2 linked regions of the Homo sapiens genome follow. The protein of the gene in region 1 binds, or shares a complex with, the protein of each later gene. Each region holds a gene or a part of one and is shown in the gene's direction. Other genes may lie near its edges. The genes, in order: MOB4 and STRN3.

Evidence for each region.
Region 2: the proteins of MOB4 (region 1) and STRN3 are in contact, whole or in part, in a cryo-EM structure (PDB 7K36), measured with the Homo sapiens proteins. Residues at the interface, in NP_056202.2 of Homo sapiens: Arg12, Asn13, Arg14, Pro15, Gly16, Thr17, Lys18, Phe22, Trp25, Thr36, Gln40, Gln41, Tyr71, Arg75, Cys78, Leu79, Asn82, Val86, Lys87, Gln89, Ala112, His113, Ile122 (codon at 1,543), Asp123 (codon at 1,546), Arg126 (codon at 1,555), His127 (codon at 1,558), Leu129 (codon at 1,564), Asp130 (codon at 1,567), Gly131 (codon at 1,570), Ala133 (codon at 1,576); in NP_001077362.1 of Homo sapiens: Arg477, Ser478, His479, Phe480, Asp481, Asp501, His502, Thr503, Glu524, Tyr527, Thr528, Arg530, Ala531, Ile533, Ile553, Pro569, Tyr570, Asp571, Thr572, Tyr573, Asp587, Ala588, Trp590, Ala606, Asn652, His683, Asn685, Arg765 (codon at 1,996), Lys766 (codon at 1,999), Lys767 (codon at 2,002).

Annotation. Positions count from the first base shown.
Region 1 is NC_000002.12:197,546,803-197,554,103, forward strand, and holds the end of MOB4 (MOB-like protein phocein), read left to right. Parts: intron 1-1,533; coding exon 1,534-1,613; intron 1,614-3,472; coding exon 3,473-3,584; intron 3,585-3,712; coding exon 3,713-3,844; 3' UTR 3,845-6,897; downstream 6,898-7,301. Other genes in the region: HSPE1-MOB4 protein, read left to right, coding at 1,534-1,613, 3,473-3,584, 3,713-3,844.
Region 2 is NC_000014.9:30,893,131-30,897,507, reverse strand, and holds the end of STRN3 (striatin-3), read left to right. Parts: intron 1-1,759; coding exon 1,760-1,846; intron 1,847-1,892; exon of another isoform or gene 1,893-1,927; coding exon 1,928-2,097; 3' UTR 2,098-3,704; downstream 3,705-4,377. UniProt on the Homo sapiens protein: Calmodulin-binding scaffolding protein which is the center of the striatin-interacting phosphatase and kinase (STRIPAK) complexes.

The DNA of each region.
Region 1 (7,301 bases):
CTAACTTTTGACTCCCCCAAAACTTAATTACTAATAGCCTACTGTTGACTGGAAGCCTTACCGATAACAGTCGATTAACACACATTTTGTATGTTCTGTGTATTATATAGTGTATTGCAATGAAGGAAGCTAGAGAAAATGTTATTCAGAAAATCATAAGGGGCTGGGCGTGATGGCTTATGCCTGTAAACCCAGCACTTTGGGAGGCTGAGATGGGAGGATCGCTTGAGGCCAGGAGTTCGAGACCAGCCTGGTCAACATAGTGAGACCTTCTTTCTTTCTTTTTTTTAAAGAAAATCGTAAGGAAGAGAAAATATATTTGCCATTCATTAAGTGGATCATTGTAAAGGTCTTCCTTGTTGTGTTCATGTCGTTGAGTAGGCTGAGGAGAAAGAGAAAGAAGTGGGGTTGGTCTTGCCGTTGCTGGGAAAATCTGAGCATAAGTGGATTTACGCAGTTCAAACCTGTGTTGTTCAAGGGTCTGCTGTATTTCTGTTGATGATTCTGGTTTAAAGGTTGTAAAACTGTCTCATGGTATACCCAAATGACAAATATGAGAAATACAGTTACTTGGGATATTTGCTTTTGACCAACTCATCTGTGGTCATATATCTGGAGAAAGGTAGTTTTTTTCAATAAATATTGCTCATGGTACTGTTTTTGGCAAGGAGTCCACTAATCAGAAATTCCTGTGGATATATTGTTAGAAAAATACTTCTTTTTTATTAGGTAATTTTTTAGTGCCACGGCACTAAGCCATATTTAGTAGTTACTAAACCGTATTTCTAAGTGACAGCTTCAGTCTCAAACTTGAAAAATAACCTAATTACTGGGTAGAGTCTTTGAGCTACAGTCATTGTTACTCCTTCCTCTAGTTGTTTTTTCCTTCTGGTTGACTCCCTGGTTTGTTTCTAGACTGCTTTCCCCTTGATGTTGCTCCCTGTCTGCCCTCAGGAGGACTGGATGAGGACAATTACTTTGCAGTTTTATTTTTCCTTTAATAAATTTACTGAGTTGCCATGAGACAGTGTTTCATTGTTTCTTTTTTTCATTGTTTCTGATAAATGGAACAGAATAAGTCAGATTTATTAAAATATAAGGAAACTTTGATATTTCATGTTAAAATTCAAAGGTGATCTGGGAGAAAGTTCTTTAGAGGGCTGCTAGATTGATAATAGAGTGCTAGGGACATAATAAGGAATATTGTTTAGGATATAAGAAGGCATCCCTGGAGATACCAGAGATAAATCAGGATTCTTCTTGTCTGTAATTGTTGTTTTCTTGTAGGTACGATGTTGGGAATAAAAATGGGAGACTGGTTTATGTATCATCTAGAATTGTGATATGGTTCAAGGGGATAATAAACCTTACTTATTAATATAACATTATATTTTACAAGCATTCGGAAATTGTAAGGAACTTTTTTCTTAGAACATGCTCATGTCTTTGGAATAAGGTATACCCATATAATGAATATATCTAACTTAAGAGAGAGCTCTTTGTTGATGCATTTCTATATTCTTTCTTTTGTAGTGTCCTGCTATAGACTATACTAGACACACACTTGATGGTGCTGCATGTCTTCTGAATAGCAATAAATATTTTCCCAGCAGGTAATCGAAACTTTTAAACATAGTGTTAAACATTTTAGAGTTAATTTATAAGATTGGTATTTTAGGGGGGAGGGGGGAGGGATAGTATTAGGAGCTATACCTAATGCTAAATGATGAGTTAATGGGTGCAGCACACCAACATGGCACATGTATACATATGTTACAAACCTGCACGTTGTGCACATGTACCCTAAAACTTAAAGTATAAATAATAATAAAATAAAAGATTAGTATTTTAAAAGTAAAATTAGGTTGCTCGTTAATGCATTTTTGTATTTTTTTTTTTAGCTGTTGTATTTTGGCTTGTTTATTCAAGTTTTGAAATTAGGACTGTGGTTAAACAGCAGAACTTGGCTGTCAAAGCTCAAGGCCAGTTCAGTCTAAGGCTAGTACCTGTTCATATATGTCATTCTGCAGAGCTCTCCCTCTCATGCTTTAGAGTTGGGATATGTATATACTTGCTCACTTGAATCTCTATGTTAGTTAGACTCGACCTCCCTTTATGTAGTATGCCTAAAGAGCAGACTTTCTGGCTGGGCGCAGTGGCTCACGGATGTAATCCCAGCACTTTGGGAGGCCGAGGCGTGCGGATCACCTGAGATTGGGAGTTCGAGACCAGCCTGAACAACATGTAGAAACTCCTTCTCTACTAAAAATACAAAATGATCTGGGCATGGTGACGAGTACCTGTAATCCCAGCCACTTGGGAGGCTGAGGCAGGAGAATCGCTTGAACCCAGGAGGCAGAGGTTGTGGTGAGCCGAGATCGCGCCATTGCACTCCGGCCTGGGCAACAAGAGCGAAACTGTCTCAAAAAAAAAAGAGCAGACTTTCTTATTTGTTTTTGAAGGATTCCTTATCCTTGCTCATTGATTTTTAAGATCTGAGAAGTCTGTACATGTAATATATTATCGGTGAAGTTTGTGACTGCCTTTTATTTTATTAAGGTATTTGTTACCAGGTGGATAGATTTGGAGATTTCCCCCACCAAATATGATTAGCTTCAAAGAGCTCATATAAAATATGTTAAGAAAAATACTGACTTTTGACCTTAATATTCTGTGTATACATATTTTAAAAAAGGATATCAGAAATATGCAGAAAATTTCAATTTTAAAAAAACAATTTTAATTTCTCTCTCTCTGTTTTTCTTTTTCTATATGGAGTCTTGCTCAACCAGGCTGGAGTGCAGTGGCGCAATCTCAGCTCACTGCAACCTCTGCCTCCTGGGTTCAAGCGTTTCTCCTGCCTCAGCCTCATGAGTAGCTGGGATTACAAGTGCCTGCCACCACGCCTGGCTGATTTTTGTATTTTCTAGTAGAGACGGGGTTTCACCATGTTGGCCAGGCTGGTTTCGAACTCCTGACCTCAGATGATCCACCTGCCTTGGCCTCCCAAAGTGCTGGGATTACAGGCGTGAGCCACCACACCTGGCCTTAATTTCTAAAAAAAAAAAAAAAAAAAAGAAAAGAAAAGGAAAGAATAACCTAGTTCTGTAAAATAAAACAATAATTCCTTTCAGGAGTTTTCAATCGCCTCTAGTGGACAATGTATTAATGTTGGAAATAGATGTTATAGTAAATTTTGAAATGTCAGGGATTTATTCTAACTGCATTAAACTTTTACAAAGTTTCAAAACTATAATGCTGAATTTAAGTTAGGCCCTGTGATTAGGTAGAAAGAACACTGGCCTAGAACTGAGGAGCAGGGGCTCCAGGCATTTACTCGCAGTGTGACCTTGGAGTAGTCGCTTATTTTCCCTAGGTGTCAGTTTCTACACTTGTAAGCGAGAAATTGGACTATATTGTTCCTAAGATTCTATCCAGTTCTAAGAATCTATGGTTTCTTTTCTACTTCTAGGGTTAGCATAAAGGAATCATCTGTAGCGAAACTAGGATCAGTATGCCGTAGGATTTACAGAATATTTTCACATGCTTATTTTCATCATCGGCAGATATTTGATGAATATGAAGTAAGTATATTTCACTGATTATCTTGATGCATTCTTATCAGTGTAACAGTAATATATATTGATGTTATTTCTAGTCTTTTAGTTTGGGATAGTGAATTAAAATAACATTTTTGTCTTCCTCTCTACAGAATGAAACATTTTTGTGTCATCGGTTTACTAAGTTTGTGATGAAATACAATTTGATGTCCAAGGATAACCTGATTGTACCAATTTTAGAAGAGGAAGTACAGAATTCAGTTTCTGGGGAAAGTGAAGCATGAAGGGAATCATAGGAAAAATGTACTGATCATATAATTAACATTATGTACTGTATATATCATTTTAGACACATCAATCATGTATCCATATTATAGCTTCTTTGTTTAGTATAGGTTTTTGTATGCTGGGTTTGCCTTTTAAAATGGGAAATACTTTTTAAGTTATTCATAAGCTGTATATTCACCAGTGTGGCACTCATGGTTTTTAAATAAGATTAGTATTATCTGTTTATAATGCCTGTTAATAAAAGAATTTACAGTTTGGTAAAATTGCTGCTAAACAATCATTGGATCACAATCCTCATCAGACAAACCCATCTGTAAAAAAAATGAGGGAGAGCTTGAGGTTTCACACAAGCCATTTACTAAAGAGGTAGAAATGTTTTCTATTGGTTTTACCTTGAGTTTAGATATCCTAAAAAATTCTGTAGTACGTAGTTTTGTCTTACCTGTTAACTTTCCCCAATTGAGATAAAAGTGTTTTAAAATTCTGTTTATAGTTTTTGATATGCATATATAATTATGTGTATATCTAAATACAAATGCAAATGAAGCATTAGTAATACTTAAATAATTTTACTGTGCTACATAAAGTATAACATACTTGGAAAGGATTTACCGTTCTGCAACAACGGACTGGTACATACAGGATGATCACAATGGTAAGGCACATAAATTATTTTCCCACTGGAAACCTGCCCTGTCCACCCCTTCTCATTTCCCTTAACCTTATCTTCAAACTACTTTAGCTGAGAAGCTTTTCACCAGACTGAGTTAGTGGTGGCTTATACCTATTTATATTTGTATTAATTGCTTACAGATTATACCTCATATTAGCAATTACATTACACTACAAGAAAATGTATTTGCATAGGCTCTTGCTTATCTTTGTTTTGCAAAATTGTTCTACTTAGAAAACAGTCCTTAAAATAGTTTGACTCTTCCTGTTAGTAATATATTAATCTTTCATTTAACCAGCTAGGCAGCATTAAATAGAATTGAAGAAATACCATAGTATTTATTTTACACCCCCTCTCCCACGAAGTTTATGTTTGGATTACATGCACGTGTGAGATTATTTGCAATAATTCATAGGTTCCAAGGGTGTTGATGAATAGTCATACATTTTTTTGGACTTTGTTATAATTCATTGTGGTAAGAATGATTGAAATGCAGATTTAACAATCTTATAATCTATTGAATGCCATTTTTGATAAAGCACTGGAGGTCTTATTGCCAAACTGATTGTAATGAGGCAGTAAGGGTGAAAACATTGTACATGTTGTGAAGAAAGTATTTAAATCCAACTTTTGAACAGATTTAACAAACATGAGGAACTTTTTTATTTAGAAGGATAATTTTGAAGATGAAAATGTATTCATCTTAATTGTTTTTTCAAATTTAAGGGAATAATTTATACCATCTTTTCAGACAAGAATGTACAGCAAAAATAAGGGGAACAGTAGTATACTGAGAGTGTGTGTATGTATAGTGTATGCCTTTCCAAGCTTGCCAGTCTTTTTGGCTTTGAACACTGCCCATCAGCTACAGTCATTACTGTTCCCCAACCCACAACTATCTTTTAAGAAGTCTTAGTTCACAGTGAAAGGAATGATGACTTTGAAATTATGGATTTATATTAATGGCACTATAAACCAATGGTAATGGTAATTTTTAAACTTGCTAAATATTGAGAAACTAAACTACTAAGTTAATAAATTATATATAGCAGTGTAGCTGTTCTCTCTAGATGGTGTCTCACAATGGATTTCTGTTGCTTGACTATTTTCTTAGTGAATATTTATACTAAGGTAGTGACTGAGATTTGGTGATCTGGCTGAGTATTTTGAAACACATTTTGAATAATATGGCTTAGTGTTAACGGGGACTTAAATATGATTTTTTTTTCTTACTCATTTCACCTTCCCTGTACTGTATGTTTGGAATTGATCATAAAACATCTCCAAAAGAAAATAATCAGTTTGTAGTCTTGCTTTTGTATTCATGTTGATAATCTTACTAATTGTGAAGTTGATTCACTACTATACTAGGTAAGACCTAAGTGAAACAGTTCCTGTTTTTCCTTAATACTGTTTTCAGAATTTTGAAAATGTACTTATATATACATAAATACTACTAAAAAATTAATGAGCCTGGCAAACCATTGATTTATAAAAGTAAGTGTTCTAAGAGGGGAACAAGACAGTTCTGTGTGATAAGGAAGTTAGGCTCCACTTTTTGTTTGAATTACCCTATGTATATCCGAAGGTAAACTTAGGCTTTTCTTTCCAAAAGATCGTATAGTCAATTCATTCTTTTTCTCCTATCACATCTGGGAAAGTAGCTAACTTTTAACTATTTATGTTCCCATAAGTAACCCTTCTTTTGTGTGTATACATTTCCTTTTCTCTGACTTGAGATGTCAAATTTGGATTTCTAGAACAGTTTCTCAGTTAAATTCTTGATGACTTAACAACTTTTACTATCAGAATACAATTAGAAATCCTTGGTCAGGCACAGGGGCTCACGCCTGTAATCCCAGCACTTTGGGAAGCCAAGGCAGACAGATCACCTGAGGTCAGGAGTTCGAGACCAGCCTGACCAACATGGAGAAACCCTGTCTCTACTAAAAATACAAAAATTAGCCGGGCGTGGTGCTACTCGTGAGGCTGAGGCAGGAGAATCGCTTGAACCCGGGAGGTGGAGGTTGCGGTGAGCTGAGATCGTGCCATTGCACTCCAGCCTGGGTAACGAGCAAAACTCCGTCTCAAAAACTCCGTCTCAAAAAAAAAAAATCCTTGATTACATTGTTAGTAAGGACTGTGTTACGATTATAAACACATTTATTGGTTGATGTCAAATTCACTGTAATAGTAGAACTAAGTTTTTTATGTGAGTACTTTGCCCTACTGTCTATATGATGACATCTTTTTTGAGCAGCTAAATTTTAAATTGTATATACTTTATTTTGTGAATCCTTGTTGAATGTGCTAAAGGTTTCTTTGTGTAGTTCTTCCATGCTATGCGAATATTTTAGTAAAAGTAGTTGATTTTTATTTCTTCAAGCATCTCATTGTTAACAGACAATACATATGGACCAGATGTAGTGGCTCACGTCTGTAATCCCAGCCCTTTGGAGGCCAAGGTGGGCAGATCATTTGAGGCCAGGAGTTCAAGACCAGCCTGGCCAACATGGTGAAACCCCATCTCTACTAAAAAAATACAAAAATTAGCCAGGTGTGGTGATGCATGCCTGTAATCCCATCTACATGGGAGGCTGAGGCAGAAGAATAGCTTGAACCTGGGAGGTGGAGGTTGCAGTGAGCCGAGATTGCACCACTGCACTCCAGCCTGGGCGACAGAGTAAGACTCCGTCTCAAAAAAAAAAAAAAACGTATTTGTGCAATATGCTTAGCAGTTTATTTGAGATGATAAGAACATTCAAATCTGTTTTCCTGAA
Region 2 (4,377 bases), on another chromosome or scaffold:
GTTCAAGCGATTCTCCTGTCTCAGCCTCCCTAGTAGCTGGGATTACAGGTGCTAACCACCACACCCAGCTAATTTTTGTATTTTTAGTAGAGGCAAGGTTTCCCCATGTTGGCCAGGCTGGTCTTGAACTCCTGCCCTCAGGTGATCTGCCCGCTTCAGCCTCCCAAAGTGCTGGGATTACAGGCATGATCCCCCACAGCTGGCCTACTATATTACTTTTTATAGGTTTTTTGGAGTGTATTTTTACACATTTTATTATGTTGTGGTTTTGTATTCAGGTCAACAGCTATAGCCCCATCACAAATAACAAAACTAGACCTCTTTCATATCCTAGTGTAGAGTATCATCATGGGACCAGAGGCATGGCTAATGATTATAACTAGAATTTTGGAAAAAGCCTCTATCTTTCATTAGGGACATCCCAGGCATTTGAGTAATAAAGACTCATTGCTGAGTGAAAGGAGAGTAACTTATAAAAGTATCAGTATTTATATTTTATTGCCTGCCTAGTGAATCAGTTTATAATGCTTTCTATCCATCCAAAGCATATATTACCATTGCAGGATGCCCTTGCCCCAAAGTATTTGTGCAATACAACTTTGTGTTCACAACTTGTCTTTTAAATTCTACTTGCTGTTGAATTCCATTTGCTTGCCAAATCTTCACTGAAGATACTCATTAAGTCACATTTTCCAGAGCAGTGTTTTTGTTAATATCTGGGGAAATCTAGAGTAATTTGTTTACTCCTTTCTTTTTTAGAGTATGTAAAATGATTATATTTCAAAGGATAAGTGAACTGAACTTGATAATGGAATGTTTAGGTAGAAACATATTTTCTGGTGATTTATTTATTGTTAGCCCAGTATATAAAATAGTCTTAAGGTCTTTCACTGACACTTTTCCTTCCTTCTTCCCTCCCCTCCCCTCCCCTCCCCTTCCCTTTCTTTTCTTTCTTCTCTTTTCTCTTTCCTTCCCATTTTCCTTGCCTTTCCTTTCTTGACAGCATTTCACTATGTTGCCCAGGCTAGCTAGAGTACAGTGGCCACTCACAGGCACAGTCATAGTGCACTGCAGCCTTGAACTCCTGGGTTCAAGTGATTCCACAACCTCAGCCTCCTGAGTAGCTTGGAACTACAGGCACACCTCACCACACTTGGCTTATTTAATTCCAGTTTACACGATCTTGAGCCTTTGATGCAATCCTATTGTCATTGCTTTACAGTGTCTATCAGATATTGTCAGATACATGTTACACAGATGTCTTTTTTAGGAGTAATTATTAGAGAAAGTTATGCATTTGAATTAAAATTCTCTTGAAAACATTACCGTAGTGGTGGATGTACCCTTAAAACATTATATTAAGTGAAAGAAGCCAGACACAAAAAGCCACGTATTGTATGAGTTCACTTATACGAAGTATCCAGAATAGGCCAGTCTATAGAAAGAGTCGATTAGTGGTCAGGGGTTGGAGGGGCAAATAGGAGTGACTGCTTAATTGGGTATGGGGTTTCCTTTTCCAGTGATGAAAATGTTCGGAACTCTAGAGAATGGTGATGGTTGTGTAACATTGTGAATGTTCTAAAAGACACAGGATTGTGTACTCAGATGTTTACAGTGGTAAATTTTATGTTGTGTATATTTTACCACAATAAAAAAGTTGCTATAATGATTGTTTTATGTTGATGCTATATTGTAGTTTCTGTTGTCTCGAGTTAGTATTTGTGAAAACTTAATCAGTTCTCTGTTATGTTTTGTTTAGGTAAAATGATCCATTCTATGGTAGCTCACTTGGATGCTGTTACAAGTCTAGCAGTAGATCCTAATGGAATCTATTTGATGTCTGGAAGTAAGTCTTAAAGTCCTGTACTGCCCACAAACTTTATAAAAGATTGTTACTCAGTAACAAATTTTATTTGTTCTTTTACAGGCCATGACTGTTCCATCAGATTATGGAATTTAGACAGCAAGACATGTGTGCAAGAAATAACAGCTCACAGAAAGAAATTGGATGAATCAATTTATGATGTTGCTTTCCACTCGTCAAAAGCATATATAGCTAGTGCAGGAGCTGATGCTCTTGCCAAAGTATTTGTATGAATCAACAAAAACTTGCATCGTAACAAGATTTGCTTGGACAGAAAGAGGGTCTGCATCACTGCCATCAGAAAGGTTACTGATATGACACTACATGTGATCTGCCTGGTGAAGGCTATCTGGGGCAGGCACAAATTGGTGGAAATCACATCTTAATGTCAAGCTCATTAAGTTAACTGTAATTACTGTATTTTGTGGGACAAAGAAAAAAGGACTCCAGTATTTGTGGCCTGTACTGGATGTGAACTGAGCGTATATCTGTTTTTAGGTGTCTTTAAGCCAATGTGGAGTCTGATCTTTCAAAAAAGTTTTTTTTTTTCTCTTCTTCTTCTTCTTTTTTTTTTTTTTTTTTTTTTTTTTGGACTCTGTGTGCTGCCTTAGGGGTTAGGAATGTGGTGCTCTTGTTGGGGGAAGTGAGCTCCAAGAGTAGCTTTTTTTCATCTCTTAGTGATCTTCTGTTTATCGGTTGAATGCCACAGATTCCCTTTTAAACTTATTTTGCTTTAAAAAAAAAAAAAAAGAAAAAGAAAATTTAACTTAAAATATTTTAGCATTAGTTGCACAAAATGTTTGGATAAAATTCTAGTTTTTATAAGTCTTTTTATATATTTAGCCTGTCACAACAGTGCTCAAGATTGTATTGAAGTTTTTCTGCATTATACAACCCTAAAACACAGAGATCTCACTGACCCGTTGCCCTGTAACCACTTTCTTTCCTTCTTTTGCCTAATACAGCTCAGCTAAGTCCTTCCATAAAGATGCTAAATAACTTTCATCATCACATAAATGTCTTCATAAACCAAGGACTATTAAGTGTATTAAAATGAAACAGTGGGGTTTAGTACTCCAAATGAACTCTTAAAGAAAAAAACTAATCTTGGCATCCTATCACTATGTGATATTTTGTACATCTTACTGTATTTACAAGTTTATTTATCAAGGATTATCCATCTTGCTAATGGCCTATTATTTATTTCACTTTTTGTTGGTCTTTATATCCTTTTATTAATGTGCTAAAGGAACCTGTATATCTATTTTGGAACTCTTTGAATAGTCTAAAATAGACTAAAAATGGAGTATTTTATAGTTTAAATTACAAACCAAGGTGGTTCCCCCTAAGATATATATCTTGGTTTACCATGATTCCAAACAAAACTAACTTGTTTAAAAATATTTGGAGTAAAGTTTTATTTGCATTACAAATAGGATACAAAAATAGTTGAATCAGGATACAGAAATCTGCTGTGTTTTGACTAGTTATCCCTGTTTTATTTTTTTAGATGTGCTTAATTTTATGGTGTAACTAAAGATTTTGTTTGTGTAATGCATGATTAAGACAATAAAGTATTTTTTCTAGTCTTCCGAGAAACTTTTCTGATCAGTTTGCGAGTTTTGATGAGTTTTGTAAGGTTTTTGTTTTACAAACTATGAATCAGCAAATTTTTAAGATTGTACCACATAGCAAACATACAGCTGTTGAAAAATAATGTATATAAAATGCATATAATAAATATTAAATTGTGTACCTGTATGTTACTGTTGGCTACATCATTTTGTGTTGAATAATAAAGTGCAATACTTTATTCTCCATAATTAAACTAGGAAATGGAGATTTCTTAGTGAGTCCTTCATTTTTATGCTGTTCTTTCAAACTTTGTCCTACTTATTGATATTCTAATAAGAGTAGATCACTAACACTATTAATAATGTCTAAGTATTTCACCCCACTTGAAGATTAAGAAAAAGTCTTGCATTAAATTATGCAATTCAAAATAACCCCCAGAAATGCACAGGTGCAGTTTTAAGTAATTTGCTTAGACATCCTGTTACATTATTAAATCTGAATTTCAATTAATGGCAGTGTTGTTCTATTTGCCATACCTGTTCCCACAAAAAAATTCAGCAAGGAATAAACTACATTGAATATTTAGGTTAGTTGGTGCAAAAGTAATTGCGGTTTTTGGCCGGGCGCGGTGGCTCAGGCCTATAATCCCAGCACTTTGGGAGGCCGAGGTGGGTGGATCATGAGGTCAGGAGATCAAGACCATCCTGGCTAACACGATGAAACCCCGTCTCTACTAAAAACACACACACACAAAATTAGCCGGGCGTGGTGGCGGGTGCCTATGGTCCCAGCTACTCGGGAGGCTGAGGCTGAGGTGTGAGTCCGGGAGGCGGAGCTTGCAGTGAGCTGAGATCACGCCACTGCACTCCAGCCTGGGTGACAGAGACTCCGTCTCAAAAAAAAAAAAAAAAAAAAAAAATTGTGGTTTTTGCCGTTTG